Homo sapiens: one gene and its partners. The protein of the gene in region 1 purifies or fractionates together with the protein of each later gene. This does not show direct contact. Each region holds a gene or a part of one and is shown in the gene's direction. Other genes may lie near its edges.

Evidence for each region.
Region 2: the proteins of PLRG1 (region 1) and ISY1 purify together in Homo sapiens (affinity purification with mass spectrometry; 4 studies listed by BioGRID, with this or other methods). This does not show direct contact.
Region 3: the proteins of PLRG1 (region 1) and DHX35 purify together in Homo sapiens (affinity purification with mass spectrometry; 2 studies listed by BioGRID and IntAct, with this or other methods). This does not show direct contact.
Region 4: the proteins of PLRG1 (region 1) and XAB2 purify together in Homo sapiens (affinity purification with mass spectrometry; 4 studies listed by BioGRID and IntAct, with this or other methods). This does not show direct contact.
Region 5: the proteins of PLRG1 (region 1) and SF3A1 fractionate together in Homo sapiens (co-fractionation; 3 studies listed by BioGRID and IntAct, with this or other methods). This does not show direct contact.
Region 6: the proteins of PLRG1 (region 1) and SF3B1 purify together in Homo sapiens (co-immunoprecipitation; 3 studies listed by BioGRID and IntAct, with this or other methods). This does not show direct contact.
Region 7: the proteins of PLRG1 (region 1) and LINS1 purify together in Homo sapiens (affinity purification with mass spectrometry; 2 studies listed by BioGRID and IntAct, with this or other methods). This does not show direct contact.

What each region holds. Positions count from the first base shown.
Region 1 is NC_000004.12:154,540,401-154,543,900, reverse strand, and holds part of PLRG1 (pleiotropic regulator 1), read left to right. Parts: intron 1-1,621; coding exon 1,622-1,714; intron 1,715-2,966; coding exon 2,967-3,116; intron 3,117-3,205; coding exon 3,206-3,307; intron 3,308-3,500. UniProt on the Homo sapiens protein: Involved in pre-mRNA splicing as component of the spliceosome. Component of the PRP19-CDC5L complex that forms an integral part of the spliceosome and is required for activating pre-mRNA splicing.
Region 2 is NC_000003.12:129,126,915-129,130,063, reverse strand, and holds the end of ISY1 (pre-mRNA-splicing factor ISY1 homolog), read left to right. Parts: 3' UTR 1-2,649; downstream 2,650-3,149. UniProt on the Homo sapiens protein: Component of the spliceosome C complex required for the selective processing of microRNAs during embryonic stem cell differentiation. Required for the biogenesis of all miRNAs from the pri-miR-17-92 primary transcript except miR-92a.
Region 3 is NC_000020.11:38,968,844-38,972,343, forward strand, and holds part of DHX35 (probable ATP-dependent RNA helicase DHX35), read left to right. Parts: intron 1-237; coding exon 238-371; intron 372-3,500. UniProt on the Homo sapiens protein: May be involved in pre-mRNA splicing.
Region 4 is NC_000019.10:7,619,546-7,623,045, reverse strand, and holds part of XAB2 (pre-mRNA-splicing factor SYF1), read left to right. Parts: intron 1-152; coding exon 153-284; intron 285-384; coding exon 385-516; intron 517-601; coding exon 602-715; intron 716-1,748; coding exon 1,749-1,911; intron 1,912-2,009; coding exon 2,010-2,200; intron 2,201-2,376; coding exon 2,377-2,499; intron 2,500-2,599; coding exon 2,600-2,771; intron 2,772-2,970; coding exon 2,971-3,100; intron 3,101-3,189; coding exon 3,190-3,299; intron 3,300-3,398; coding exon 3,399-3,460; 3' UTR 3,461-3,500. UniProt on the Homo sapiens protein: Involved in pre-mRNA splicing as component of the spliceosome. Involved in transcription-coupled repair (TCR), transcription and pre-mRNA splicing.
Region 5 is NC_000022.11:30,343,395-30,346,894, reverse strand, and holds part of SF3A1 (splicing factor 3A subunit 1), read left to right. Parts: intron 1-375; coding exon 376-583; intron 584-1,704; coding exon 1,705-1,962; intron 1,963-3,500. UniProt on the Homo sapiens protein: Component of the 17S U2 SnRNP complex of the spliceosome, a large ribonucleoprotein complex that removes introns from transcribed pre-mRNAs.
Region 6 is NC_000002.12:197,425,029-197,428,528, reverse strand, and holds part of SF3B1 (splicing factor 3B subunit 1), read left to right. Parts: intron 1-3,500. UniProt on the Homo sapiens protein: Component of the 17S U2 SnRNP complex of the spliceosome, a large ribonucleoprotein complex that removes introns from transcribed pre-mRNAs.
Region 7 is NC_000015.10:100,595,685-100,599,184, reverse strand, and holds part of LINS1 (protein Lines homolog 1), read left to right. Parts: intron 1-3,500.

The sequences.
Region 1 (3,500 bases):
TCATGTACTCCATAAATACATTTCTACTGTGTACCCACAAAAATTAAAAACAGAAAATTTTAAAAAAGAAAATGTACATAGTAGGAAATGTACAGCTACACATAATTTAATATGTATCTTAAAAATTTCATTTTTCAAATGATTGTACAGTAAGAGCCTTTTTGTTTGACATACAGCTCTAATGAATTGTAATAGATGTATTGATTTGGGTAACCACTACCACAATTAGGATATAGATGTTACACCACCTCAAAAAACACCCTTGTGCTATTCGTTTGTAGTTACACTTTCCTTCACCTCTGACAATCACTGATCTGTTTTCTATCACTATAGTTGTCTTATTTTTTTTCAATAATTTCAGTTCTAATTTATTTTTAATTTTTATGGCTAACATAATAGATGTGCATATTTATGGGCTACATATCAAATTTGATACAAGCATACAGTGTGTAGGCCAGGCATGGTGGCTCATGCCTATAATCCCAGTGCTTTGGGAGGCCTAGGCAAGCGCATCTCTTGAGCCTAGGAGTTCAGTACCAGCCTGGGCAACACAACAAAACCCCGCCTCTACAAAAAAATACAAAAATTGGCTATGTGTAGTGGAGCACACCTGTAGTCCCAGCTACTCCAGAGGCTGAAGTGGGAGGATCACTTGGGCTCAGGAGGCGGAGGTTGCAGTGAGCCAAGATCACGCCACTGCACTCCAGCCTGGGCGACAGAGTGACACCCTATCTCAAAACAAAAAACAAAGAAAAACATACAGTGTGTAATGATCAAATCACGGTAATTGGGATATTATTTCTTTGTATTAGGAACATTCCAATTTTACTCTTCTAGTTATTTTGAAATATACAATAAATTACTCTTAACTGTAGTCACTCTATTGTGCTACCAAGCTAACTAGCCAAACTAGTGCTACCAAACTAGCTAACCAAACTAGTGCTACCAAACACTAAATCTTACTCCCTTTATCTATTTTTGTACCCGTGATCCACCTCTTCTTTATCTTCTGCCTCCCCACTATTCTTCCCAACCTCTGGTAGCCATCATTCAACTCTGAAGATCATTTATTTTTTAGCTCCCGTATATGAGAGAGAGCACGCAATATTTGTTTTTCTGTGCCTGGCTTATTTCACTTAACATAGTATCTTCCAGTTCCATCCATGTTGTTGCAAATAACAGAATTTCATTCTTTTTTATGGCTGAATAGTATTCCATTGTGTGTATGTACCACATTTTATTTATCCATTCACCTCATGATGGACACTTAGGTTGGTTTAGCTGTGTCTTTTTGACTATGTCATATAAATGGAATCATACAATATGTACTTTTTGAGACTGGCTTCCTTCACACAGCTTAATACTTTGTGAGTCATTGAAGTTGTTGCAAGTATTAATAATGTATTCCTTTTTATTACTGAGTAGTTTACATTATATAGATGAGCCACAATTTGTGTTAACTATTAACTCACTGAAGATAATTTCATATTATTGTAAAATGTAATAGTCATTATCTTTTATGATTTGAAGATGGGAGGGCAATTCAAACTCGGGCTGCAGTTAAACTTAAATACATTTTAACTTCTACGTTGGCCTGCCCATTCTACTTTGTTTTATACAGGTTATCAGTGGGCATCTTGGCTGGGTTCGATGTATTGCTGTGGAACCTGGAAATCAGTGGTTTGTTACTGGATCTGCTGACAGAACTATAAAGGTAATAATGAAGGAAGAAAAAATAAACATGACTTTGTGTTTGTCATGTAAGTTTAATCAGTTATTATTTCCTGTGGCAGGAATTGCTATTGCAGTTCCTCTGTTATTTTAGACCTGAATAAGGAGTAAAATTTATCATTTATACTAATAAGTGTTCTAAATAAATATCTGTTTGAAAAGTGCTATTTAAACCACTTTTTCTTTACCTACTGAATACCTACCACTAATTCCTTTATACTTACATTGTTCTCTCCAACTGGTTACAAAATTAAGAGCATGCTCATTCATAGAAAATGTGGAAAATATAGAGAATTAGGAAAGTACATAGACCTGTATATAATCCTACCATTGTTAGATATTTGGATAAGTTTCGTTTTAGTATTTATTTCTGTAAGTATCAATACCTTCACTTCTAAGCTCTTTTCCTGTGTGTGTATCTTTTAAAAAATCATTCTTAGTATGTAATTTTGTATCTTGCTTTTTTCACTTAACGTTGTATCAAAGGCATATTCCTGTGAAAAATTTACCATCTTTTAAAGTGGTTGCATAATATTATATCATTTAGATAGTCTGTAATCTGTTTTCCTATTACTGGACAGTAGAGTTTTTAGTCTGATTTTCACCATTACAAGTAATGCTGTTAAGTTTTGTATATAAGACTTTTTCTGTATTTTAAATTATTTTGTTATGGTAGAGTTCCATAAATGGAATAAATGGGTCAAATATTTTTGAAGCTGATACCCAAAGTACAAATTACTTTCCAAATGGGTGAATCGATACTTGCAGTGTATGAGAGGATCCTTTTCAGCACATTGGTTGTACATTCCTTTACAAATATCTAATATGGTAAGCAAAAATGGATACTTAATCTTTTTAAAAAACTTTGTATGAAATTTCTAATGAGTGTGAACTTTTTCATATCTGTATTTGCTGCTTTTAGGATTTCTTTAAGTTGTTGCCAGCCTCAGTTAATTTAATACCATACTTTTCTTACTGTTATTATCAAAGATATCATTTATATAACAAGAAGGTTAACCTTTTGTCATCTAATTGCAAATATTTTTCCAGTTTGAGCATGCCAGTTTTTTTCTTGCTTTTATTTGGAGGGGAGTCATTTTGCAAAATTTTTTATTTTTACGTATTTGTTATCTTTTTCCTTTTGTCTTTGAAAGCTCAGTTTTAATAATCAGGTTTCTAAAATTTTGTTTTGCAGTAACCAGTGAAAGAAAAAAATAAATATTCTTTGATTGCAGATCTGGGACTTGGCTAGTGGCAAATTAAAACTGTCATTGACTGGGCATATTAGTACTGTGCGGGGCGTGATAGTAAGCACAAGGAGCCCATATCTGTTCTCTTGTGGAGAAGACAAACAAGTGAAATGCTGGGATCTCGAATACAATAAGGTAAGTTTGGAGTTAAGGATTTAAAACATTGTGAACTACTATTTATCTTTCTAATTCTAGAAGTTTTAACTTTCCTGCTTTGTCTTTAGGTTATACGGCATTATCATGGACATTTAAGTGCAGTGTATGGTTTGGATTTGCACCCGACAATCGATGTGTTGGTAACCTGTAGTCGAGATTCAACTGCACGGGTAAATGGGATAGAGTTGTGTATTTATCTGTAAATATATTGCATCTTGTAGGGTGCACTTTCGGTTTCAGTGTCTTCAATTGATTGATAGAGAATTAAAGATAGCTGTCTTGAGTCATCAATATCCTAGTCCCTAAGTTTCTTAACTTGCATTTTTTTCCACCTTAGTCTTCAGTTGTATGGCCTCACCATGT
Region 2 (3,149 bases), on another chromosome or scaffold:
CCTTGGAGTTCTTCCATCCCCCAGTGGTACCTCAGGACCCAGGGCTGCAGACACAGGCTGGTGCTGCAAGGGCTCCTGCCCCATTCTCAGCCTTCCTTCCCTCTCCTTGTCTCATGTTGACCGGAGGGTAGGGGTCTGTCCCTGGTCTTCCTGGTAGGTTTTGTACACATATTTTGCTACTGTGTGGATCCATTTATTTTTATTGTGGAGTGTATACAACAGGTTGCGAACTGGCTGCCTGTGTCTTATTTTGACTTGCACTGCCATTTTGAGGGGAGAAGAATCAATTAGTGGCAAACATTTAAAAATGCAATTTTTTGCAGACCAAAGTATAATTTTAAAAAATGCAAATTTTCTAAAAGACACATCTCTTGAAAAATGAGATGATGTGGCCAGGCGCAGTGGCTCACGCCTGTAACCCCAGCACTTTGGGAGGCCGAGGCGGGCGGGTCACGAGGTCAAGAGATGGAGACCATCCTGGCCAACATGGTGAAACCCCATGTCTACTAAAAATACAAAAAAATTAGCTGGGCGTACTGGCATGCACCTGTAGTCCCAGCTGCTTGGGAGGCTGAGGCAGGAGAATCACTTGAACCCGAGAGGTGGAGGTTGAAGTGAGCCAAGATCGTGCCATTGCACTCCAGCCTGGCGACAGAGTGAGACTCTGTCCCAAAAAAAAAAAAAAAAAAAGATGCACGCAACCCACAAGTCAATGACCAGGTCCCTCTGTGTTGGTTGCTGCTCTGGGCTCTCCGTTAGCCCCCCTCCACCTGCTCCACTCGCTCCTGCCTGGGTGGCAGGAATTTGAGTTTGCTATTCCTGTTTTATAACCTGTTCTGCAGAAACCTATTTTTATTAAAGATTTTTATAAGAAAGGGAAACCTCCATGTCTTCAGCTTGTTCCCTGGGCCAACGGCTCTGAGGTGACAGTGGCATTAGGATGTGACCAGTCACTAAGGGGCACTGCCTTCCTGCAGGGGAGTCCCTGAAGCCCCAGCCCCAAGTGTGGCAAAGACAGGACCAGATCCCAGGAGTCTAGGTGGGAGTGAGCCGACCCACCATGGCGTCCGTGGCCACAGCTGTAGACAGGGCTCCTTGCAGTGGGCTGCACCGTGGCCTGCTGAAAGCACACAGTGGACACGAGCTGAGTCCAGAGCTTCCTCTGAACTGGGGCTTAGCTCTCCAGTGGGGAACCATGGTCAGCGGCTGTAGCCCCTGGGCAAGATGGTGCCTGGCTTCCTGCCCTCTGCAGGGTCATGGGAGTGTCTGGGAACTCAGGGTCAGGGCCAGATGGCTGTTCCTGGGGCCTGGGGCTCCAGCTCAGGCTGTTTGGGAATAGGAGGAACTCTTGGCTTGGAGAAGCCCATCACACAGCGGGAGGCCTGGGATGGTTGGTCTGCGGGGAGCAGCTCAGACTGGGGGTGGCAGAGCCGTGTGTGGCTGTGTGTGGCCAAGTCGGGAGAGTGGCCAGTGCTGGGCCCTCTCTAAGGAGCCCGAGGGCCACAAGGACTGTGGAAAAGGTCTGAGTGAGGGAGTCGGGAGCTAGTGGCTAAGGGACTTGCTTGAGGACGCTCCGTGCGGCCACAAGGAGAGGCCCAGGCAGGACCAGGTCAGGAGGAGGCTGGGGCAGAGGCCCTGGCAGGAGGTGGGTGGGCTTGGTGGGGATGGGAGTAGCCAGGGTGTAGGTGAGGATGGGGAAGGGGCCCCCCTGCCTCCTGGCTTCCCTGAGGGCTGGGCTGGCCAATCCCAGCCCTCAGTCAAGCCCGGAGGCAAATGTGTGCAGGGAGGAGAGGTGTCCAGGTTGAAGCTTTGGGAGCCCTTGGAGGCAGCAAGGCAGACTCGCCTCTGGGACCCAGCACCCAGCTTGGGCCTGCAGGTGGGGACTCAGGAGTGAATATCGTGGGGGCTTTGAGCAAGACCCTCTGGGCCCAGCCTCACCTTCCATACTTTGAAGTCAAGGAGTGGACCTGTGCTGTCTCAGTTTGCTCTGGGGTCTGGGCAGTCCTGTGGTTTGGGCAGAGGCCTCAGAGGGCCCTAGGGACAGACTGACCCAGGTCTGAGCCTCTTGGGAGCGTGCGGATGGCCGGCCTCAGACAGGCCTGGTTGTGGGTTTGTCTTCCAAGGGGCACACGCGCACTCTGGTGCTTCCTGGCATTCAGAAGAGAATGGGGAATCCAGACATCAGGCCTTCCTTCTCCCTGGGAAGGATGGCAGGTGCTTGGAGCCAGGCCTGTCTTGAGAGCCAGGGCTCTGGGTCTTCCTCCTCCAGTGCCCTGTTCCACGCCTTCAGTGCACAAAGCACTCCCCTCCTGGGATCTCTTCAGGGATCCCCGGGATGCAAACTGGCCAGGGATTAGAATTCCACATTTGAGCAAACAGACTGAGAGTGGAGAAGCACCCAGCTGGACATCCTCTAGGTGTTCCTGGCAGAGGCCCTTGCTACTTGTCTGTGCCCAAAGGCCCTAGAGGGTCCTAGATGTGGGACAAGGTCTCAGCAGGGCTCCAGTCCCAGGCCTGGAAACAGCTGGGGGTGGGGGAAGCTGGCTGGGTGGGTGTGGTTATCTTTTCCCAGCTTGTGGCTCCGAGGTGACAGAACCAATCTCAGGAGGCTTTGTTTGGTTAATAAAATCTACTGAATGGTTTATTTTAGCTTTGGCTCTGCCTGTGGTTTCCCGAAAAGCTACTTTTTCATAGTCATGTTTCCATCAACTTCCTTCTTCCCTCACACTGCCTGTCCTCCAGCGTCTAAAACACACCACCTCCCTCCTGTTTTGCTTTAAGACTGGTCACAGCATCCCCACCCAGGCCTCCTGGACCTCCTCCCGCTGCATCCCCAACTGGCTGACCCCATCTGCCCTTGGGCAGTTTATAAACAAGGAAGAAATGAAAACCTTTCTCCTCTTGCCCTGCACTTGCTCTGCAGTGCTGCGCATGCACACCCCATTCCCTGAAACACTGGCAGGATCTGGACCCTAGCTGGGGCTCCTCACCCTGCTCACTGTGCAGCACTGAAAGCAGGAACCCGCCTGGATGGACATCAGGCCTGGCCCAGCACCCAGCTGACTAGCAAGCAGAGGGATCCAGGGGGACGGGCAGCGGCACCCAGCTCCTTCTGGCATCTCACTTGCTGCCCACCTGCTCCACCAGAA
Region 3 (3,500 bases), on another chromosome or scaffold:
ACCTAACCCTGTCTTGTTTGTTTTTGACACTGCAGTGAAGCTTTTAGGGAAGATTTTTAGTTCCTCGTAGGCACTTTTCTGGATTCTTTCCTAAAGTTAAGGTTGAATACCTTTGAGTAGTTTGAGATAAAAAGTATTGCTTCTTCTGTATATCTTCATCTTTGAAAGTTTATAAACTTAACACCTTTTTCTGTTCATTGTATCAGAGAATCTGAAAAAAAAACATTTCTGCTGCAGGTACAGAGGGGCCAGGTGTAAGCATCTCTGAAGAGAGACAAAGTCTGGCTGAAAACTCTGGGACAACGGTTGTTTACAACCCTTATGCTGCCCTTTCCATAGAGCAGCAGAGGCAGAAGCTGCCGGTATTCAAGGTACGTCAAATAATCATGTTCAACCTGTGGGCTTGAATCGTGTGTCTGCATTAGCTTTATGCTCAGCACTGAAGGGAATGATGGCCTCTTTCTAGAACACAGTGAGCTCAGAGAAACCCTTACTGTAAGGGATGACTTTTCATACTGTGTATTTTTTAGTTAACCTTATAAATCTTGAAAGTCCTTAAGATTTTTTCAGTTGCATCGTACATACTGGAAAACTGGAGGAATTAGAATGACTTTTGTTTTCCCCTTTATTCCTTTCAGCTGTGGACAATTTCAGATATACAGAAAAGTAGAGAAAATAGCAGTTAATTTCTATATAACAGATTACCAACATATGGCCAATTTTTGCTTTATTTTTAAAGTCACTCCTTTAAACAAGTTTAATTGGGAATATGAGGTTGTTTCTGCTGAAGACATCAGTTAATACTCTGACTTCCTCTGAGACAGTGACAGGATTTTGGTATGGTTACTACTTACCAAGTGCACATCCAGACACTCAGTTTTATTAGCGCTCACGAAACAGATGTGTGCTCAGCTACAAGAGACCAAAGTGCAAACTAGAATTCATTCAGAACTGTTCATTTATGGCTAGCAATAATTCTCCAGTACAGATGGACACAGTTGACATATACACTTTGTCCCTGTTGGCACATCCACATGGGAAGCCAAATTGTAATCAGGAAGTACAGAGCCAAGACAGGTTACAGAAATGTCATACAGCCCCTGATGAGGGGTGAATTCTCCCTGCTCCACAGGATGCCCTTGGAATGACCCGAGTAGGTGTGGCCACCAGCATCTGTGTCTCTTTCTTTCTCCTGGACGGTGCTGGGTGAAAGTTGCTGTGTTCTATCTATCTGTCTGTCTGTCTGTCTGTCTGTCTATCTATCAGACAGGGTCTTCCTATATTGTTCAGGCTGGTCACGAACCCCTGAGCTCAAGCAGTTCTCCTGCCTCGGCCTCCCAAAGTGCTGGGATTACAGGTGTGAGCAGCCAAAAGGTGCCAAGTTCTTATACTCATGGAGTTCTTTTGACTAGACTGTGCTGATAATTCCTCTTCTATTAATGTGTTCTTTCTCCAAACAGATAGGCAACAGCAGCCTTCTTAATTTAGCCAGATTGCCTTACTTGGAGTTTTATGTGGCTCCCAATATTTTAGTCACAAGTGAACTGACTGTCTCTGGGTTTCTTCCTCAAGTGACTAACACATTCACTATGTATGAATGTTAGCAAGTTTGACTTTCAGGAGATGAAATGATAGGTTTACTATTGCTTTCTCACCACTGAGGGACAGTTTGAGCTGTGATGAAGTGTCCGGACTCTGGAGCTAGACTTCAGGGTTCAAACCCAAGCTTCACCATTTGTGTGCTGTGTGACCTCACTTCTCCATTCTGAGCTTCTTTTCTTTATCTGTGATGTAGGACTACAGGAGCACCTACCTCATAGGACTGTTATGAGGACCAGATGAGATCATCCATGCAGAGCATTTAGCAAGATACCTGACATGTAGTAAATGCTCAAGTACAAGGGAAATTACTGTTTACTCAAGTATTTAAATTTTGGCCTTTTCTTGACTATTCTTTGTCTCCCAACTGTACTTACAAGATAACATAAATGAAACAGCAAATGAAAAAAAAAAAAGCAACAAGAAGTTAAGAAATGTTTATGAAATTAAAATGGTAAGAAGAAGGGTGTAAGTTACTGATATAAAGCAAAGCAGAGTTTAAGTACAGTTGAGATCTTATAAGATGTTGAAGATGAATCGAGACAAAAAGGAAAACAAGTTACCTCTACGCCATCCTTTTTCCCTTTCAAACAAAAAGTAAAAGTAGCTTTAAAAACAGAAATTGGAGGCTCGGTGTGGTGGCTTACGGCTGTAATCCTATAGGCTTTGGGAGGCTGAGGCGGGTGGATCACTTGAGACAAGGAGTTCGAGACCAACCTGGCAAACATGGTGAAACCCCATCTCTACTAAAAATATAAAAAATTAGCCGGGCGTGGTGGCACATGTTTGTAATCCCAGCTACTTGGGAGGCTGAGGCAGGAGAACTCTTGAACCCGGGAGGTGGGGGTTGCAGTGAGCCAAGATTGCACCACTGCACTCCTGCCTGGGCAACAGAGCGAGACTCCATCTCAAAAAACAAAACAAAACAAAACAATGTTGGAACTAAAGCATCAAGAGATTGTTAAAGATCACTGCCTCTTCCCCAGCACCATTATGAGGCCACCTGTTCCCTTGTCTGCCTTCTTTAGGCTGCTGTATAGACAATAGTGACTCTATCTTGGATGCAAGTCTGCCATGTTCACTTCTGTTTAGACCCAGTCTTATAAATGCCTCCTGATTTCTGCTTTGTATATTGTCCTTAGTGTAAGAACATGTCAACCTCTCTGGGGGCAGCACTATTGACAGCTTCTTGTTTTGTTTTGTTTTTCCCCAAAAACAGTCTACGCATAAACAAGTAGATACGTGTTTGCCCTAAGAAGAATGCAGTTACTAGGGTATTATTCACACTGTTCTACATCTCACTTCCTTTTCTTAACATATCTTATAGTTCATTCCATATCAGTACAAGTAGATATTTCCTCTTCTTAATAACTACAAATTATTCCATTATTGGAATATTTTATGACTGATTTAACCAAACTTTTGTTGATCAACATTTAGGCTGTTTGAATTTTTGGCTATTATAAACAACTCTGCAATGAGTATGCTTGTATTTATGTCTTTGTACACATATAGTATGTAGCAGTATGTCTATAATTTCTTGTTTTTTTTGTTTTGTTTTGTTTTTTTTTTTTTTTTTTTTTTGAGACAGAGTCTCACCCTGTTGCTCAGGCTGAAGTGCAGTGGCATGGTCTCGCCTCACTGCAGCCTCCCCCCGCCTGGGTTCAAGCAATTCTGCTGCCTTAGCGTCCTGAGTAGCTAGTATTACAGGCACTTTCCACTGCGCCCAGCTAATTTTTGTATTTTTAGTAGAGACAGGGTTTCACCATGTTGGCCAGGCTGGTCTTGAACTCCTGACCTCATGATCCACCCCCGGCCCTGGCCTCCCAAAGTGCTGGGATTGCAGGCGTGAGCCACCTCACCCGGCCTATAATTTCTTATAAGTGAAAATGTAAAGGGCG
Region 4 (3,500 bases), on another chromosome or scaffold:
GTGCATGCATATGTGCACGCATGTGTGTGCCTGTGTGTGTGCCTGTGTGTTTGTGCCTGTATGTTTGTGAGCATGGTCACCTTTCTGACCCTTGATGGTGGGAGCTGTCCAGGTGGGCAGGGTCTCAGCCTCGCCTCTGCCCGCCCCGGCAGGCCCGTGTCATCCTGGAGAAGGCCACCAAGGTGAACTTCAAGCAGGTGGATGACCTGGCAAGCGTGTGGTGTCAGTGCGGAGAGCTGGAGCTCCGACACGAGAACTACGATGAGGCCTTGCGGCTGCTGCGAGTGAGAACAGGCCCAGGCTGTGGGGTGGGGGCTGCAGGTTGTAGGGCAAGGGCCAGGGACAGCCCCTGAGCGCCTCCCCGGCCACTGTCTGCCCCTGCAGAAGGCCACGGCGCTGCCTGCCCGCCGGGCCGAGTACTTTGATGGTTCAGAGCCCGTGCAGAACCGCGTGTACAAGTCACTGAAGGTCTGGTCCATGCTCGCCGACCTGGAGGAGAGCCTCGGCACCTTCCAGGTGAGCTGCCTGTGGCTGGGGAGGGACGGGGCCCCGGACTCAGCTCCAGAACCAGCTCCAACCTTTCCCATCCCCACCCCTGCAGTCCACCAAGGCCGTGTACGACCGCATCCTGGACCTGCGTATCGCAACACCCCAGATCGTCATCAACTATGCCATGTTCCTGGAGGAGCACAAGTACTTCGAGGAGAGCTTCAAGGTGAGGGGCTAGGGTGGACCCAGAGGCCCCTGATGGCAGTGTCCCCTCCCCAGGGGTCCTCAGCAACTTACGAATCTGCTGGGGCTTGTGTGACACAGTATACAGACTGGGTGACTTAAACAACAAAGATTTAGCTTCTCCCCGTCCTGGAGGCTGGAAGTCCAGGATCGAGGCATGGGCAGGGCTGGTTCCTCCTGAGGCCTCTCTCCTTAGCTTACAGACAGCCGCCTTCTCCCTATGTCTTTGTGTGGCCTTCTCTTTGTGTGTGTCACTTTTGAAATTTCCTCTTCTTATAAAGGACATCAGTCATAATGGATTAGGTGGCCCCTAACGACCTCAGTTTAACTTAGTGATCTCATCTTCAAACGAATCTACTTTCTGAGGTACTGGGGGTTAAGATTTGAGCATATGAATGTTTTGAGGGGGGCACAGTTCATTCCATAGCAGGCACAGAATCCTACTTCCACGTGCACCCATGACTCATGGGGAGGGTGTTGGTGCCAGTGTGTGCGGGCTCTCCCTGCCCCGCTGCTCAGGAGACGGGTTGTGGGGTCCAGGGGGTGGGTTGCGTGTCCGTGGGAAGGCCATGTCCCGCGGCCGGAGCAGTCATGTTTGAGTGTGTGTTTCTATGGATCGTGTGGGCATTATACAGATACACAAATGGGGAGGTCGTACATGCATACGCGTGCTACTGCCTGCCCCTCTGTCAGGGGGTGCGGCCTTCTCCCTGGGGACAGGCAGCCAGCGTCAGCGGAGCTGGGGAGCCACCCACCTTCACCCATCATGTCACCTCCTATGGGGCCAGACTGTGCTTAGCAGGTCCCATTGCACCCCTGTTCTTGGGGTTCTCACAGAGGGAGACAGTGCAGAGGACAGACCCCCACAACTGCCATTAGGGACAGGGAGGCGTGGACAGGGAAGGGCCCCAAGGGAGTTCCTGGCAGGCTCCCTACAGACGCCACCCAAGGACATCCCGGGTGCCTGGTGGTCTCTATCTGCAGACTCTCACATGTGACTCTCCCTCTGGTAACAGGCGTACGAGCGCGGCATCTCGCTGTTCAAGTGGCCCAACGTGTCCGACATCTGGAGCACCTACCTGACCAAATTCATTGCCCGCTATGGGGGCCGCAAGCTGGAGCGGGCACGGGACCTGTTTGAACAGGCTCTGGACGGCTGCCCCCCAAAATATGCCAAGAGTGAGGCGGGCAGAGGGCATGGGGGGGGTGGCGGGCGGGCTGGGTTTCTGACTGGCCCCGGCTGACCGTGCTCCCCTCTCCCCGCCTACCCCGCCCAGCCTTGTACCTGCTGTACGCACAGCTGGAGGAGGAGTGGGGCCTGGCCCGGCATGCCATGGCCGTGTACGAGCGTGCCACCAGGGCCGTGGAGCCCGCCCAGCAGTATGACATGTTCAACATCTACATCAAGCGGGCGGCCGAGATCTATGGGGTCACCCACACCCGCGGCATCTACCAGAAGGCCATTGAGGTACCCACCGTGGGGGGCTGGGCCGGGGCCAGAGGTCCCTGAGCAGACGGAAGGGGTCCAGGCAGGTGGGAGGGGCTGAGGAGGAGCCTTCTGGAAGCACAGGGATGGCCATGGTGTGTTGGGAGCCCCCGAGCTACCCCGGCCTCACTCCCGGCCTCCCCAACCCCGGTGTCCAGGTGCTGTCGGACGAGCACGCGCGTGAGATGTGCCTGCGGTTTGCAGACATGGAGTGCAAGCTCGGGGAGATTGACCGCGCCCGGGCCATCTACAGCTTCTGCTCCCAGATCTGTGACCCCCGGGTAGGGCTGTGGGGAGGGACGGGTATCAGGGTTGGGGGCTGCGGCGGAGTCAGCCAGCTCACGGGCACACACACCCACCCCTGCCCTGCCCCCCACGCAGACGACCGGCGCGTTCTGGCAGACGTGGAAGGACTTTGAGGTCCGGCATGGCAATGAGGACACCATCAAGGAAATGCTGCGTATCCGGCGCAGCGTGCAGGCCACGTACAACACGCAGGTCAACTTCATGGCCTCGCAGATGCTCAAGGTCTCGGGCAGTGCCACGGGCACCGGTGAGCCGTCCCAGCTGGCTGAGTTCCTGATCCAGGGCATCTCAGCCCGGCCTGACCTGGGCTTTCCGGGTCTGGGAGCCTCGGATCCTGATGGCAATCTCCTTGAGGGCTGGGCCATCACCTGGGGGACTGGGATAGTGCAACGTCCGATGTGTGGGAGGGGCCCCCGTGGCGCTGACCCCCTGCTCCCACCCCCTAGTGTCTGACCTGGCCCCTGGGCAGAGTGGCATGGACGACATGAAGCTGCTGGAACAGCGGGCAGAGCAGCTGGCGGCTGAGGCGGAGCGTGACCAGCCCTTGCGCGCCCAGAGCAAGATCCTGTTCGTGAGGTGAGGGCGGATCCTTGGACGGGACAGGACTGGGACAGGTCCCAAGGGGGCCCGGGGTGGGGAACTGAGGCAGCATGGCCCGTCCCTAGGAGTGACGCCTCCCGGGAGGAGCTGGCAGAGCTGGCACAGCAGGTCAACCCCGAGGAGATCCAGCTGGGCGAGGACGAGGACGAGGACGAGATGGACCTGGAGCCCAACGGTGAGGGCCCGGCTGGGGCGGGGACGGTGGCATTACCAGGGTGGGCCTCGGGGGACAGGCCAACGCCAGGAGGGTGACTGGCTCCCGCCTTCCCCACAGAGGTTCGGCTGGAGCAGCAGAGCGTGCCAGCCGCAGTGTTTGGGAGCCTGAAGGAAGACTGACCCGTCCCTCCCCCATCCCCCCTCCCCACCCCCTCCCCAA
Region 5 (3,500 bases), on another chromosome or scaffold:
GGTAAAGGCATACTGATTTTTTTTTATTTGAAGTAGTAATATGTATTCTCCATCTTAAATAGATTTTTTTTAAAGTAAATTTTATTAAAAGAAATGAGCGATAGCCTAGATGGTTTTGGAAATGGCAGAACTGGAAAAGGAGCTAAGGAATGACTGGGTTCAGGGAAACCCTGTGGCAGAGGTGGCCTGGTTCAAGCTGAATGAGGCAGATGGCACTGATCGCCAATGCCAGGAAGCTAGAGGAGGACGTCTGCTGAGGGATGGGCTGGTTTGAGCAGTGGGTGGTGGCAAGAAGGACGTTCCAATGGGCAGTGTTCTAGATCACAGCAGGCACAAGGGAGTGGTGTTTATTCTTGTTGTTTTTTCTTCCTCCAGAAACGGGCCTGAATTTGAAGCTAGGATCCGACAGAACGAGATCAACAACCCCAAGTTCAACTTTCTGAACCCCAATGACCCTTACCATGCCTACTACCGCCACAAGGTCAGCGAGTTCAAGGAAGGGAAGGCTCAGGAGCCGTCCGCCGCCATCCCCAAGGTCATGCAGCAGCAGCAGCAGACCACCCAGCAGCAGCTGCCCCAGAAGGTTTGGAGCCCAGTGCCCCCTTCACTTACGCAGGGCTTGAGAGGGAAACAGGGATAGGGAGGGAGTACACAATTAACTCCAAATCTCACAACCACCCAGGGAGAGAAGTGAGGTCGTTATCCCCATCTCTCAGAGGCAGACCGAGGCCCAGACAGCAAAGTACTGATGTTAGTTGGCATTTCCCGAGCACTGCTTGTCAAGCTCTGTGCTTGGTACTTCAGGAGTCTTGTCTCATTGACTCCTCACAGAGGCTGTATGAGGAACCTGAGAGTTGGGGGACGTGTGATTTATTCAAGGCCTTGCTCAGGGTGTGAGGGCAGTGCCGTGATGTGAGGGCAGCACTTCCTACTTGGCTGTGCTGAAGGATGCAGTGTGGCCTGTGGGCTCCTCCTTGTGCCATCCCTTCCCTTCTATCTCTTCTTCCCAGGACCCCTCCATCCTGGCCTCCCCTGATACCACCTTCCCTGTGCTGAGGCCCAGCACTAGGGACTATTAGGATTATGAATGAAGAGAGAGGCTGACATGTTTTTCCTCCTGTCCAGACCTGCCTTCTGCACTCCTGAACCATGGTGGAAAAGGCAGTCCCTCCTTTTGCAGTGGGCTATAAAGGTTGAAGTCAGGTTCTAAGACCTTGCGTTGCAATGAGGCCTAGGACCTCAGGCTACCTCAGTTTCTTCATCTGTAAAGAGGATTCACAGTACCTGTGCTACCTCATCGTTCATGCGGAGGTCATGGAAACACTTTGTACAGTGGGGTTTTCTGCACACATGTAGGCCTTCTGCACATCCATCCCTCTTGGATGGGATTTAATAAGTCCTATTCTTGTTGGATCTTCTGTCACCCAGTTTTGGCCCTCAATTTCAAGGCAGGAGCAGAGATACAGAGGGGAATGGTTCTCACTCAGCCATTCAGGAAGTTGAGGCCATAGTTGGCTGGGAAGTCAATGCTCTTGTGATTTAGAATTCTCTCACACCAAGTGCTAGTGGTGTGTGCATAATTAACAGAAGTCTAGAGGTTCACAGCATCCTGCTGAGGGGTGCATGCCCATGTCCCCTCCCCTCCCCTCCCCTGGAGCCTGTTCACCCCTGTGCCTCTCGCCTCATACTCCCTTTGCATCTTAGGTCCAAGCCCAAGTAATCCAAGAGACCATCGTGCCCAAAGAGCCTCCTCCTGAGTTTGAGTTCATTGCTGATCCTCCCTCTATCTCAGCCTTCGACTTGGATGTGGTGAAGCTGACGGCTCAGTTTGTGGCCAGGAATGGGCGCCAGTTTCTGACCCAGCTGATGCAGAAAGAGCAGCGCAACTACCAGTTTGACTTTCTCCGCCCACAGCACAGCCTCTTCAACTACTTCACGAAGCTAGTGGAACAGTACACCAAGGTGCCTGGGCAGGATGGGGCTGGGGTCCTGGGCCCAGGAAAGGAAAACATCTTATGCTTGGAAGCACTGTGTCCACTCACTGTCTACAAGGACATCGCTTCTCCATGGGGCCTCTGAGCAAATGTTTTGAATCCCAGTTTAATGTAAAACCTTGATTTCTATTCAGTTATTTCTTTAAGTGCAACACAGACTGCCGGTTTCTAAAGAGAAGGGAAATACATGCTTGCTAACTACCATTAGGCGATTGCCTGCTATGTGACAAGGCCACGTGGTGCTTGCTGCTTTTAAGTGCATTTCCGTTTTCAGTTGCCTAGTAAGGCCCTGAGAAGAAGCCAACCTTTAAGAGTTGCCTCCTTTTACCTAACTTAGTCCTCACAAGAAGCCATGAGGTGTTTTCCCCCCATGTTTGAGAAGCAGAAACAGGCTCAGAAAGGTGAAGTCACGTACTCAAGGTCTGTCAGCTAGTAAGTACTATGCTGAGATTTAAACCACATTTGACCCTAAAACTTTGGTTCTTCAGCTTATAAAGTGCCTTAAATTGGAAACAGCATTTAAATAGGTGTTGAGAGACACTTTGATGTCATGTAAGTCAGTATAACTAACATCACTAAGAAATTATGTATGCAGCATCTTCTCATTTAATCTCCGGTAGCCTATAAGGTAGCCACTATTGCTATGTTCACTTTACAGAAGAGAAAATTGAGGTGCAGTGAAGTTAGCATGGCCAGGGTCACATAGCTAGGAGGTGGCAGGGCTGGGGCTTGAGCTCTGGCATTTTTACTCCAGACCCTAAGAACTCAATTATCATTTGACAGAGCTGCAATCAAGAATCAGGACAAGTCAGTTCTGGCATTTAAAATAATCAGATTATTAATTTATTGCAAAGTGCACTGACAGCTTTGCCTGTGGCACATTTTTCTTGCTACACATGTCATGGAGGTTGTTTTCCTTCCCTTTACAGTGGGATGGTCTGTACATCTCTTCTTCATATCCAGAAACAACACCTCAAAGATCTGACTTGAAAGGACTTGAGAATTTCCTAACTCTACTCACTTTTAAGTACATAATTAGAATTTTAACAATGTGTGTGTTTAGAAAATGACCAAATCCAGAAGCTAGTATGGTAGCTAAAATAACAGTCATTCAAGGCCCAAGGCCCAAGGGTTTCTATAAATATGCAATATCAATTTTAAATGAACCCTGGATTAATTTCTCCCAGTGGACTGCTTCCAGGGTTAAAGGTCCCAGATCACTTTTTATTCTGTTACTTTCCTGTTTTTTCTTCAGAACTTGGGTATTGGCATTTACCACTGTAACTTGAGGTTCCTGCTGTCTGTTCTAGCCATGGAAGACTGAGCAGATAGATTCTTGGGGTAGAGGTGGAAGGAGGATTGGGATAGGGCCGAGCCACTTTGCCAGTGGCAGTAGAAGCTGTTGGGGCTGTTTAGAACAAAGGCAGCATTTGTTCTCTCAGTAAGTATACATTGTCAGACATTATTCAGGGGGCTGGAGATGTAATCGTGAACAAAAGAGAAATC
Region 6 (3,500 bases), on another chromosome or scaffold:
ATTATAGGAATACTTACACACCAGGCTGTAACTTAGTGTTGGTTTTGAAAATACGGAGTTAGAGACAACATTGTTATTCCCAGAGATAAAAAATTTGAAGTGGAATTTTACAAACCTTGGCTGGCATGGATAGGGGAGAGAAAAATTTGGAAAATTACTTTTAATTACTTCTACAGATTACCTATTTATTTATTTACTTACTTATTTAGAGGCAAGGCCTGGCTCTAACACCCAGGCTAGAGTGCAGTGGTGTGATCTCAGCTCACTGCAACCTCCGCCTCCTGGGCTCAAGCCATCCTCTGACCTCAGCCTCCTGAGTATCTGGGACTACAGGTGTGCACCTGTAGTGACTAATTTTTGTATTTTTGTCTAATTTTTGTAGAGACAGGGTTTCATCATGTTGCTTAGGCTGGCCTTGAACTTGTGAACTCAAGTGATCTGCCTGCCTGGGCATCCCAAAGTGCCCAGCCTCATTACCTTTTAATTAATTAATTAATTAATTAATTAATTTGAGACGGAGTCTTGCTCTGTCGCCTAGGTTGGAGTGCAGTGGTGCGATCTCGGCTCACTGCATCCTCTGCCTCTTGGGTTCAAGCAATTCTCTGACTCAGCCTCCTGAGTAGCTGGGATTCCAGGCACCCACCACCACACCTGGCTAATTTTTATATTTTTAGTAGAGATGGGGTTTCACCATCTTGGCCAGGCTGATCCTGAACTCCTGACCTCGTGATCCACCCGCCTCGGCCTCCCAAAGTGCTGGGATTACAGGCGTGAGCCACCATGCCCGGCCCAGATTACCTTTTATGAAATATTTTAACATGCAGAAGAGAATAGGACAAAATATAATGAACACTAACCCACTGCTCAGCTTTATCAGTTCTTCATTTTCTGCCGTATTTTTTCCCACCTTTTTATTTATTTTGAAAACGAAACCTCAGACACAAAGTTACCTTATTTATGAATGTCATGGTAATAATTTGTTTGCTCATAAATATTTGGGTATGTTATATTTGGTATTTTAGCACATAGTTTATTAAGAAATTTCTGAGTTTTTAGTTCTCTGAATTGCATAATAAGCTGCTGAGTTTTATGGAATCTGACGGCTTAATTTTATGGATCACATGGTGTATGTGTAAATGTGCTGCAGTTTGCAGTGTGTTAACAAAGCCCATTAAGCTGTTTGGACTTTATATCTATAGTTTCCAGCAGACAGAAAACAATGCCTGATTTGCATATAAACATTTAATTGTACTGCCTATAAGAAGTTCAGTAATATACTCACCTTAGGATTAATTAACTACAAACAGCTGCCTAGCCCCAGGAGATTTTGGGCTGGGTAATTTTGTTACTAAATTTTAATAAGAACCTAGTCATGATTTACATAGATTTCATACCAACACTATTTCAGTACTTTATGAACCTTTGTAATTGGAAAACTCTGATGCTAATCAGCAGGTACATAAAATCAATAGTTAAAATTCAGTAGCTGAAATTAGTTCCAGAATAAGTGTTATCCAAATGAGAAACTAGTTGCTGAAACTTCAGGATGGAAAAGTTGTTTAGATGGAAAATAAGAGAGATGCCTGATAAGGGGGAAAAAGCAAGTTGCACAATATGTGTAGTGTGCAGTTTTTATAAAACAGCACCCCTTTCCTGTTTTTTAGTTGTGTATGAGGTAGAGAAAAGTATAAAATGATGCTCTAAATTGGAAAATTTGGTAGGGGTGGGCTGGGGTTGGAAATGGGAGGGGTGAAGGGCCAGGTAAAATAGTTTCCTAGGGTGTTTGTTAATGATGCAGAATCCTGGGCTTCACAGCCTGAGTTGGAGTTTCAGAGTTAGTGTATCCAAGACCTAAGGTTCTACCTTTGTAACAGGTGCACCAGGTCATTTCTTTGTAGGTGGTCCTTATACTAGACTAATGCTGTAGAGGAGATTGCAGACTATTTCTCCTGATTCATCCATTTGTTTCTTACCTAAATCCTCATGGAAGTAGCATTTGTGGTCCTTTTACAAAAACCTATTTAGGTAAAAGTGATAAATGCACCTGTGGTTTAAAAAAAAAGCCTGAAGCTGGGCGTGGTGGTGGGCATCTATAATCCCAACTATTTGGGAGGCTGAGGCAGGAGAATGGCTTGAACCTGGGAGGCGGAGGTTGCAGTGAGCCGAGATCCAGCCACTGCACTCCAGCCTGGGCAACAAGAGCAAAACTCCGCCTCAAAAAAAGAAAAGAAAAGAAGATGCCCGAAGGGGGTGGGAGTGGGGCAAATGTAGATTAAATTTTTCAAAATATGAAACTACAAACAGAAACAAAAGTAGAGATCATAGTAAAAAGAACCACCCTGCTCATGTGAGGATATTTCTGGCTGCCTGGGCTGCTATAATGGTTTGGGGACAAAGTAACATCTGTGCATGTAGTGGTGCTGTGTAACACAACACACTATAATAATTTTGAGATCCGATCACAACTGGGGCTGCTAAACTCAGCATTAAAACTATTCTATCATTTTGAGTTTCTTTCTTTCTGTTTGTTTCTGAGACAGTCTCTCTCTCATCCAGGCTGGAGTGCAGTGGCAGCAATCGTGGCTTACTGCAGCCTTGACCTCCTGGGCTCAAACAGTCCTCCCACCTGAGCCCCCTAAGTGGCAGGGGACTATAGGTTTGCCACCATACCTGGCTAATTTTAGTATTTTTTGTAGAGATAGGGTTTTGCCATGTCGCCCAGGCTGGTTTTGAACTCCTGGGCTCAAGTGATCCGCCCACCTCAGCCTTCCAAAGTGTTTGGATGACATGCGTGAGCTACCGCGTCTGCCTCCAGTTTGTGAGACGTGCTCCTGTTCCTTTCTTATGTGGAAATGTGACCCAGCCGTGCCTTAGACTAGATAAGGACATTTTGTTATCCTGCACATCTATCTTGAGGAACTATAGAGGGCTTTCTCCCTTAGCTGGGGGGGTGGGAGGTTTTGCAAATACAGGATGCTATTTGAATCTTTATCTTTTGATTCATGCAGCTAGCAATTGAGCTTTTTTATTTTTTATTTGATTTATTTATCTATTTATTTTTTGAGACGGAGTTTCGCTCTTGTCGCCCAGGCTGGAGTGCAATGGCGTGATCTCGACTTACTGCAACCTCCACCTTCCGGGTTCATGTGATTCTCCTGCCTCAGCCTCCCGAGTAGCTGGGATTACAGGCGCCTGCCACCATGCCCGGCTAATTTTTGTATTTTTAGTAGAGACGGGGTTTTAGCACATTGGCCAGGCTGGTCTTGAACTCCTGACCTCAGGTGATCTGCCCACCTCGGCCTCCCGAAGTGCTGGGATTGCAGGTGTGAGCCACTGCGCCCGGCCTAATTTTTATTCATTTATTTATTTATTTGAGATGAGTTTTGCTCTTTGCCCAGGCTAAAGTGCAGTGGCACGTGATCTCGGCTCACTGCAGCCTTGGCCTCCCGGGTTCAAGCAGTTCTGCCTCAGCCTCCTGAGTAGCTGGGACTAGAGGCGTG
Region 7 (3,500 bases), on another chromosome or scaffold:
ACAAAAATGGGAACATCTTACAACATATAAGTGAAATAATTTGGGATAAGTATTCATGAAGCTTGATTCATGAAACCCTGACTCAATCAGAATTGAGTTTATTTCTTGAGTAGAAAGAGACTTTGTCATTGGAAAAATGCCCCAGCACCACTGCAGCAATTCTGATTTAGCTGGTCTCTAGGGAGTCCAAGGCTCATGGGTTTTTCCTAATGTTCCAGTGATGTCAGTGTCAAGGTCAGATTCCAAGGTCAAGGACCACTGCCCAGGAGGCTGTGTCCTGGCCCATAAAGCACTTGGTGGTGGAGAGAATGAGCAGGTTATGCTCTAGTTGGCAGCAGGCAGTGTTCTGGGCCAGCAGGTTGTGTCTGGGGATCTTGGTGTAATAAAGAGGGCCACCATAAAGACAGATGCAGCACAGTTTGGAGCCCATCATTTGCCTTGTTAGCCCAACTTAGTTCAGCTGTACCTGGCAGAAAAGGCGATGGGGCTGGGTAGAGAAATTGTATTTCAGACCTTGGTCATCACAGCAAAAAGAACGCCGAAAGAAAGGAAGCTAACTGGAGGCTTTTGAGTTCCTTATAGTTCTTGCCCTGGTAATTTAAGGGATTTTGGTCTTCTATGGTATTCTACCACAGCCATTTTAAGATGGTGCTTCAGTGTGTGTTGCTTCTGTCAAGTACGTTGTCAGATGTGTCATACGGTAAAGACTGAATGAGCTCAGAACTTAATCCCTGCTATGGATACTACTGTTTATAATTCTTTGATACTACATTTTTATTATAATTTAAAATTCACAACTTAAAATATTACATGGTGTTTTTAAAGTTTTTTGAGATCAAAACGGTACTAAAATATACTTTGGGACTGATTTTAGGATTGTTACATATACACTACTAAATTAATCTTCAGCCAGGAATGTATTCCACAAATATAAGTACCTACTGTGTATCAAATGCTGTGCTAGGAGCTAGGGAAGAACCAAGCAGACAACTCTAAATCATAAAAATCATTGCACAAATCGTTAAAGTATAATTGTGACACATTCTGTAAGACAGGGCACCAGAGCTGGAAGACAGTATCACCGGAGGACCTACCCCTGCCAAAGAAAGTCATATTTAAGCCTAAAACAAAAGGGAAAGTGGGTGGAAGGAGAAGCATTGTATCAAGGCCCAGAGGCTGGAAGGAACCTTTCAAGGTTAATAAATAAAGACATATTGACATCTTCCTACTTGAGTTATACAGGTGTTTTCACATATAAGCCATTTAATTTTTGCAAATCTTTGAGTATGCTACTTGGCTGAGGTAGGTAGATAATCTCGTTTTATCAATTGAAAAATCAGATCTTGTCTGTGTACAGAATTTAGGAGTTCAGTAAAATCTAGACAGTATCACATCTATAGACAGTTCCTCAACGCTACCCTGCCACTGGTGGCGGGTTTGTGGGGGCAGATGGAAAAGGGACAAGGCATAGACTGGAAAAGGGGAAGACTAAGGAAAACCTTTCAGTGAAATATTTCATTCTGAAGTACCACTTAAAACATACAGTTATAATTTAGCAACTAAGTATAGAAAAGTATTCATATTGATACACTGGATAATTTCCATTTATTTTAAAAATGCTTAGCATTAGCATATAAAAACCTAAGGAGCTGAGATTCCTCATCAATAAATCAAGTAGATTGTGCAGTGGTTCTCAAAATGTAGTCCCTGGTTCAATTCTTGGGCCCTCCCAGACCCACTAAATCAGAATCTCCAAAGTGGGCCCAGCCATTTGTGTTCTAATAAGCCTTCCAGGTAATTCTGATGCTACGGTTTGAGAATTATCTCTAAATTATCTCTTGAGATTTTTTCTAGTATGAACACGTTATGATTCTAATGTCCAGCATTAATTTGTGCTATGTTTAAAAAAAAAAAAAAAGATTTGCCTTTGGAGTGGTCACATAATAGAGCTACTTGAGAAAGATACTGTTGCCAGTAGGCCAGGTCAGGTTCTTCGCTTCTCTGCACAAAAGAATTTGAAAGGGAGACCACAGTGAAAATGTAGAAGGTTTGTTGCAGAGTGAAAGCAAGTGCACACTCAAAAGAGGAGCCTGGATGTGCTCAAAAGAGGCGTGTAATGTGGTCAGGGCTCGCTACGCAGACAGGCATGATGAAGGCACAAATATTCTATGATGAAAGGAGAGGGTTTCCAGGAAATGGGTGGGCAGTTCCCAGAATCAGGGCGCCACCCTTTTCTTGACTAAATGTGGTTAATCTGGAACTGCCATAGCTTCAGGTACGTGGCAGGGAGTGGGCGGTTTCCCCAGGGAAGTTTTATGGTAATGGGGCATAATGCAGCCAAGAGTATGCATTCAGTCAAGTTTTTGGCCATCTTGGATTTAACCAATTGCAGCAGGCTTCCTCTGTTACATTCTTATCTGTGCCTGGTCCCCAGGTAGCCCTTTCCCATTGGCACAGCTGCCGGCATTCACCTATGCAAGCTTTTACTTGTGTATCTATGCTTGCAGCTTGATTTTTCAGGCCGCTTTTTGTTAGAAAAGAAATGATTTGGGGGCTGCTTTTTATTAAAAGGGAAACCTTGCCGAGGACTCTCTTACCCTCACTATCTGTCTAAATAATTTCTAGCTCCTGTATCATCAGGCTGTTACCAGTATATCACTTTGACAGAAAAATGCATTTAAGCATTAAGTCTTTTATCTATAACTTGATTGCCAGGCTTTTCCTTCATGCCAAAAAAATCTGGCCTGTTTCAGAGTCCTAAGACAAGAGTTTAATAGGAAGACAATTTACAAACACGTGACAGAGTTTGTATTCTCACTATCTCAGAAGTAACCTGGAAACTTGTTAGAAATACAAATTACTGGGCCCCACCCCAGAACTATCTTATGGGAAGCTCCTAGGATAGGGCCCTGCAGTCTGCTTTCATAAACCTGTCTAGTGCATGACACAGTTTGAGTACTATTGTTTTGAGGAAAAGGAAGGATGGTGTAGCACTCCAAGGCCAGTAACCGCCAGCACCCCCTTTAGCCCTGAAGGTAAAGAGAGCTGGCAGTTCCTGGAGCTTGAAAGTCCAGCCTGCCTTCCGCCCCTCCCACTCCAAATCTCCTGGAGTCTGTTGGGGCACAGAGGAGAGTGAAGAATGGAACTAAAGGGAAGATACTGGCACATGGCATGCTGTCGGAAGATATCTGCCCCACTTCTTTTAATAGGGGAGGGAGGTGCTCTTGTCTAACCAGACCCATTTTATTTTTTCTGTGAAAAGTGCAGTTTCGATTGGTGGAGGGAACCAGAATCCTGGAAGACAGCCTGGGTTTGGAGGCCTCAACTTCCGCGACAGTTGTCACTGCATCTTCATTAATGGAGCAAAATAGATTAAGTAGCCTCTTGGGCTGTGGTCAGATTTGAACCAACTGTTGTTGAATTAGGGGAAGGCCTACTATTGACTTTCCCAGTCTATTAGTCTATGTAGTAGCCACATCATATAAAGAAACTAGTAATTT